Linked DNA regions of Homo sapiens. The protein of the gene in region 1 interacts with the protein of each later gene in a pairwise test. Each region holds a gene or a part of one and is shown on either strand. Other genes may lie near its edges.

Region 1 (3,626 bases):
TGGGTGAGAGTTGGGTGTATGTTTTCTGCCCTGTCCACCTGTGCACCAGGCCAGGGACACCTTCAACAATGCCTGCTGTGCCAGTGTTTGTGTGGGTCACTGACCCTGTGTACCAGACTCACTTGGTATAAAATTAAAAAATACAGATACTTGGAACCTTCCCCAGAACACTAATCCTGGCTGTCTAGGGATGGTGCTTCCTAGGTCATGCTGATACATACCAAAGTTTGGGAACCCCTGCCCTGTGCACACCACTCCTCACTCCTAGGCCACAGAAAGTTCTAGGGTGTCTGCAGGGACAGATTCGTAGTTTATAGTTTATCCTGAAAACCTGGGGGCCTCCGTGGGTCTACTTCAGGCTGATTCTGTCATCTGGATGTGACAGTGCCAGGCTCTGGGAGGGACAACATTGGTTGAGTGCTTGCCATGTGTAAGGCACCATAGTAGAAAAGATAATGTGGTCCCTACCCACAGGAAAGTCACCGTCTAATAGAGAACTGTCTAATAGAGAATCTGCACAGTGAGCAGGTGAACACTAAACATCACAACTTGAGGGGTGAAAGACCACCTGTCTATGCCCTTCTCTTTAAAGATCAGAGAACTGAGGCCTGGTTGGAGAAGTGAGCCAGCCAAGATCCTCCTGCAGATGGGCCTTGGAAGGCAGATGCTATCTTTTGGCTGCACTACCCTGTGAAATAAAAGAAGGTTCTCTTATAATAGGTGTAAGAAAGTCCACTTTTTGGAGTTGGGCAACATTTTCAAAATTCTTCTGTCGATTTGCACTTTAAGAGTCCACACCTGGGCACGGTGGCTCACATCTGTAATCCCAGCACGTTGGGAGACAGAGGTGGGAGGGTCATTTGAGGCCAGGAGTTAGAGGACAGCCTGGGCAACATAGCAAGATCCCATCTCTATTTTTGTTTAAATAATAACAAAGGAAAATCAAAGAATCCTCATCTTTCACCAAGAGGGTTAAGGCAATTCTCACAAAGGAGATGGATGAGAACTAGAAGCAGCAGGCAGGTGCATGTGATTTGTAGGGGATGCTTGTAGTGAGGCCTGTCTGTTCTGCCTGCTCCTCTGGCACAAATTACCCCCAGCAGCTCCTTATATTAAGTCAAGCCATATGATCTAATCCAAACCACAGAATGGCCAGGTGAGGGAGGGGGAGGCTGCGTGGCCCATGGTCACTGTAAGGTGGGCCCCTGCTGCAGTTTGACACCCACAGGACCCTGAGCTCCCTGGGGCAGCACCAGTAGGCTTGCCCCCTGCCTCCTGCCAGCCTCACCTGCCACCTTCTGCCCCTCTCGGGATGCCTTTGCAGACAGAGCTCTTCGCTGCCTGTGGTGGCCACTCTTTGCTTTTGGTTCTCTTGCCCCTTGGCCTCCCTTTTTGTCCCCGGGCAGCCTTGTGTGACCTGCCCTTTTCCCTCCCTTCCTTTCCAGGACAAGCACGCCGAGGAGGTGCGGAAAAACAAGGAGCTGAAGGAAGAGGCCTCCAGGTAAAGCCTAGAGGCCAAAGAACTTTCCAGGTCAGCCGGACAGCTCCAGCAGCTCCACGTTCCAGGCAGCCTCGCCCGCCGGCTGCGCTCCCAGCACTGGGGTTTGGGGGGAGGGGGGTGGCCAAGGGGCGTTTCCTCTGCTTTTGGTGTTTGTACATGTTAAGAATTGACCAGTGAAGCCATCCTATTTGTTTCCGGGGAACAATGACGGGGTGGGAGAGGGGAGAGGAGAGAGTTTGGGAAAGGGAGATGGAGAAGAACTCAAGGACATTGCAACCCTGCCCGGCGCAGATCTGATTTTCACATCTCTACCTGGACATTGAGCCTCCAGGCACCATGTTGAGGAGAGATGAAAACCAGGGCGGTAGAACTTCAGGGTGAAGGACAGAGTCCTGGGTGGGGCAGCGGCTGCAGGGCGCACCAGAGAACCCAGCCAGAGGGGTTGTGAGTACCAGTGGTGTTGCTTCCACCCTGCAGCAGGTGGGATGAGGTCTGTGTGTGTGTGTGAACCATCATTTTTTGATCATCATGACCAATGAAACATTGACTCCAAGTGTCCAGTTCTTTATTTCCCAAATGTGTCCTTTGGGTAATTGTTAAAAAGTTCTCGAAACCTGGCTTTCATCCATCTGATGGCAGATGCCCCTTTGCTTCCTTAATTCTGCCATTCAAGCATCTGGAGCCTGGGTGAGGTGGGTTGAATCAGGCCAGCCTTTGGCATAATTGAAAGGTTTTCTCTTCTGTTTTTTAAAATCCCCTCTGTGGGCTAATCTTTATTGGATAGCATGCACTAAATTGATGAGAAAAGAAACTCAATCTTCCTTTCAATGAACTGACATCCTAATATGGTCCCCAAGATGCACTGTAAGAAGGAATTTGTCTTAGTCACAACCGTTCAGACTGCTGTAACAAAATACCTTAGACTAAGTAATTGATAACAGAAATTGATTGCTCACAGTTTTGGAGGCTGGGAAGTCCAATATCAAGGTGCCAGCAGATTCAGTGTCTGGTGAGGGCTTGCCATCTGCTTCAAAGATGATGCCTTTTTGCTGCATCCTCACATGGCAGAAGGGAAGGGCAAAAGGGCTTCCTTGAGCCTTTTCTTTAAGGCACTAATCCCATTCATGAAGGTGGAGTCCTCATGATCTCACCTCTTAAGGCCCTATCTCTTAATTCTGTAGTGTCGGGATTAGGATTCAACCTGTATATTGGGGGAGACAGCAACATTCACACCATAGCAGAAGTCCTCCATGCTTTGGGGGTTTGAGATTCTAGGTAGATTAGAAAATACGAGCAAGGAAATAAAGTGTTTGCTAGTAGAAGGCAAAGGAGGCATCCAGACCCAGCAGTCTTGGTCTCCAGGACACTGAACCATGGCTGGAAAAGAAGCTCTCCTCCTCCCTTCCCCTGCAAACATGAGTGCAGGGGCTGCCTGTGTTAACCGGGTCCCAGGACCTCTTCCCACTCTGCTCTGCACACTGTGTAGTTTTTTACAGCTTTGCAAATAAACCCTTTGGTATAGCCTTTTTTTCTTTCTTCTCACTAGTGGTACTGTAATTTGGCTTTATTTTAAAATAAGATAACAGGAGGATCAAAGATGATGATGATGATGATGATGATGATGATGATGATGATGGCAGCAGCTAACTTAGGCAGCACTTACTAGATGTCCTACACTTTTCTGTACTTTTACATCTATATTATCTCACTTATCTTCACACCACCTGTAGGAGGTAGGTACTCTTATCATCCCATTTTGTAGACAAAAGAATTGAGGTCTAGAAAGGGTAAGTAACTTGGCAAGGTCACACAGGGAGTAAATGGGAGAACAGGGACTTGAATTGGGCGGTTTGCTCCCAGAGTCCATATTCTTAGCCACTGGAGTGTGCTGCTTCTTGACACCTCCAAACTAGCATCTGAGTCCCAGAATAGGGTTTCTCAAGCTGTGAGTGGTGACTCACTGGATCTTGAGATCAACGTAGTGGATCCCACCCAACCTTTCTTTTCTTTTTTAAGTGGATTAGAATAGAAAAACAAAACATCAAAATGGGTGACAGGTGATAATGGAGGCATTATTTCATGGAAATTGTGTTTCAATTTTATATTTTGTGTATATATGTGTTGA
Region 2 (3,827 bases), on another chromosome or scaffold:
TAAATACTAATTATAGATTATATGTTTTGGTTTTTGTTGTGTCAGTATTTTAATAGTCAGTGTAAAACACTTCCTCACTTTCAGCCAAAACCTTCAAGGAATAGAAGATAAAATCACAAAAATGAAGGTTACTATGGTAGCTTGGGATCGACATGACAATACAGTTATAACTGCAGTTAATAACATGACTCTGAAAGTTTGGAATTCTTACACTGGTCAACTAATTCATGTCCTGATGGTGAGAAAAAATTCTAATCTTTATTTGATATAACTGAAGCTGACTATAGAATGAAACATTCTCATTGAGGAATAAAGTCTTTTATGTTAGCTAAAAACTCTTGCTTGCTGGGGTAACGGCTTTGTGAGTGATTGGGAATAATTTTAACAGTGCAGTTAAACAGGTTTGGCTTGGAAATATATAGTAGATATTTGCTGTTTTTTTAATATGAAAAGATCCATCCACCAAGCCCTGGACAATGATATTAGCTCAGTTTCATTATTATATATACATGACAAATTTGAAGATTTTTGCCAATTTAATACTTCTTAAAACTCCATTTCTAGAAATAGTGCCATATTGGTATTTCATTATGTTTGTTTTTCTTTCTTTTTTAATATCTATGATTCTTTGACACTTCAAAAATATTTCAGGGTCATGAAGATGAGGTATTTGTTCTTGAACCACACCCGTTCGATCCTAGAGTTCTCTTTTCTGCTGGTCATGATGGAAACGTGATAGTGTGGGATCTGGCAAGAGGAGTCAAAATACGATCTTATTTCAATATGGTAATTATCATTCTCTTCATTTTATACCTACTAAAGATTTGGGAGCTTTTTGACAAAGGTACTCTGCATGTCACAAAGGAAATCCATTTAAAAATTGGTTCATTATTTTGACTTTAAATTCCCATCAATAAAGAATGATTTATTCCACACTTTTATTGACATGCTGAATTTAAAAGAAAATTAATTGTGCATATTACAGTGCCTGTACATTGTGATAACTGATACAGTTTTATCAGTTTTAGCAGTGAAACTTTGGAAATTCACAAGTATGAAGATACAATATAGAGAAGAAAAAATACTTGGAAAACCATGTGAAGAAATTATAAATAAATACTCGTATTATTGTACTTGTTTAATAGTCTTCTAGCACAATAGAATTTTACTCAAGTACACTGATTTTAAAATTAAGGCCAAAGAATCAAGCATTTCTTGCTTTTAATCAATTGGTAGTATATTAAATATTTGAGTTTATACTCTTCTCTTCACATTTTGTTTCTTAGATGTTAACATAATTGGCCAAGTATTTGAATTACAATGTTTTAATATATCACATACAACTTACCGAGCAGTGTTTCTATTTACTGTATGAAGTATTAAGGTCTCCTCAACTACTGCAGTTTGTGTAGTCATATTTTTTAAATGTCTACTTTCTGTATATTAGAGATACCTTTCAACAAAGAACAAAAGAAAAAACAGTTTCCACTATTTCAGCATGTTTAAATTTTTTTAAAAAACCAATTATAGAAATCTTTAGTAATGAACCATAAAACAATACAATTAGTACATGTGGTCAGAATTATTTTGCCAAATAAATTATTTCACAAAACAGTTGTGAAACATGGTTTGTGAAAAAATTACACGAATGTGATGCTATGCTTGATTGATAATCAGAGTAAAGTTATTTCTATGTCGTGAGTAAGCAGATATAATAGCAGATTTTTTAGTGAGGGAAATAGCTTTAGCTATCTTTAAGGCTGTGCCTTAGAATACATTAGGTAAGAAATAAGGTTTGTAAAACCCTCTATTTCTAGAAAACAGTGTTAATTATTTGGTGTGCACTTGTTAGTGATGGATGGATTTCCTTTGTGATTGTATTGAGATTTTTTTAAAAAGCCACCTGTAAATATGCTAGTAAAAAATATTTTCTGCTTTTCTATCCTTGTGTTTCTGATTTGCTCCTTTTTGGAATATCTGTTGAATAAGGAAATTAGTCATTTCTCAATCTGTCTTTATAGCTTAAAAAAAATAATATGTGAGCTATATATATACTAGTGGCTTCATTTAGTAGTTTTGTATTTCCAAAGGACATTATTATATTGGTAGAGTGTTTGGAGGGAAACTTTTCTCCCATAATTGAATACCGCTTTAACTTTTCAGTTATATAAAGGTGAATTTTCCCTTATCAGGTAAGTTGGTCACACTAATATTCTACCTTTTCAGTAGATAACAAAAACTGCAGCACCTTGAGAGTTAAGTGATTTGCTCTTAGACCATTAAAAATTAGTAATGTAACCAGGAGTAGAAGTCAGCCATAATATATTGTATATTTTTAAAAATTAGCTGAGGGATTGGTTACATTACTGCCTTAAAAATTGTTTATTGTTAAATAAGAGTGTTAGATGAGGATATTTTTCTGGTTCTTTTTATGGATAAGAGATAGGAAAACTCTAAAGAGCAGAAGAAACAAATACATGTAATAAGTTGAATTGGATAGTATTCATAGAATTGCAGACAGTGAGCAAAACATAAACCAAAAAAGCTAAAAAACAGAAAGTGAGCCACCCTTCATCTCATTAAAATAAAGATACTACCTTTAATTTTTTGTATGATGTTTAATGGTTTCCAAAATGCTCCCACATATTTTACCTCCTTTGGGTCTCATGAAAACCTTGTAAGATGATCAAGATAGATTTTATTATTCTTGGTCTTAGGAATGGAGAAACTGTACATTACAGAGATAAAGTGCTTTGCCCCAATTTACTGAGTTCACACAGCTATTATGCGGGCACTTGGAGCATAAACCCATGACTCTGGTTGTACTCAAATCTTGTCATGGTTGGCTTTTTGAGCTTTTGTCAATGTTACTGCATAGCTAACTTTTAACAATACTCAGTTAGTGATATGTCTATGAAGAAATGTTTTCATAATGGTAATAAATCTGAGTGGATCTTTTGACATCTTACTCTTTAACTTGATTTTTTTTCCTGTCTGTCTTTTATGAGTTATCTAATTGCCCTAATTCTTTTTGCTCTTCACTCTTTTGTTCTTTTCATTGCTTGTTTTATTTATGGGCAAATGGAAGATAAAGCATCCAGCATTGCTATTAAGAAAATAAAGAGAAACAATTCGAGGGAGGGCCTGCGTTCTCACTGCTTGCTATCATGAATGTTGAGTTTTGGCTATAATTATAGCTATTTGGCTCTCTGTAGCTAATCAATAAGTTTTTCAGTTACTAAAATACCACGATACTTGATTGCATACAAATTTAATCCCTAATGTTAAGTTGTAGTAGTAATCACAAGTTCAGTTTAGTAAATATTTTTTGAGCACCATGTGAAGGGTCTAGTCATATATAGTGCTTTGGTCTATTAGAGGATGAAGAATTCTGGTGGAATACTCCTTTTTTGACTAGAAATGGTGAAAGTTATGTGAAGTATTTTTAAGATTAAATAATATTTCATGTGACTGTTAAAACTGAAGTTTATAAAACAGATAAGTAAACTCACCATTCCACCTACAGCTAGAAAATAAGGAATGTAGACTATACCTTTAGAATAACAGTTTTAGTACAAATTTCTTAAATACTGGTTTTTATCAAGTATATTTTAAGAATACTTTAATATTTCTCCTGCTTTTTGAATAATAATTGAATTTTCCATTGGAAATTTATACCTTTGCAAAAGATAATGGAAATCATGTAACATATAATTTAGTATTTTGTATTCATCAGCATTTTACTGCATTTTTTGTGTAATTATGGAAATGTAAATTCTTTTTTTGAAATTTTAGAAATAGCCAAAAATCCTGTTATGTTAAAAAGC

What was found.
Region 2: the proteins of STMN4 (region 1) and PHIP interact in a two-hybrid assay, tested with the Homo sapiens proteins (one large-scale study listed by BioGRID and IntAct).

The regions. Positions count from the first base shown.
Region 1 is NC_000008.11:27,234,725-27,238,350, reverse strand, and holds the end of STMN4 (stathmin-4), read left to right. Parts: intron 1-1,445; coding exon 1,446-1,505; 3' UTR 1,506-3,043; downstream 3,044-3,626. UniProt on the Homo sapiens protein: Exhibits microtubule-destabilizing activity.
Region 2 is NC_000006.12:79,012,041-79,015,867, reverse strand, and holds part of PHIP (PH-interacting protein), read left to right. Parts: intron 1-84; coding exon 85-238; intron 239-651; coding exon 652-786; intron 787-3,827.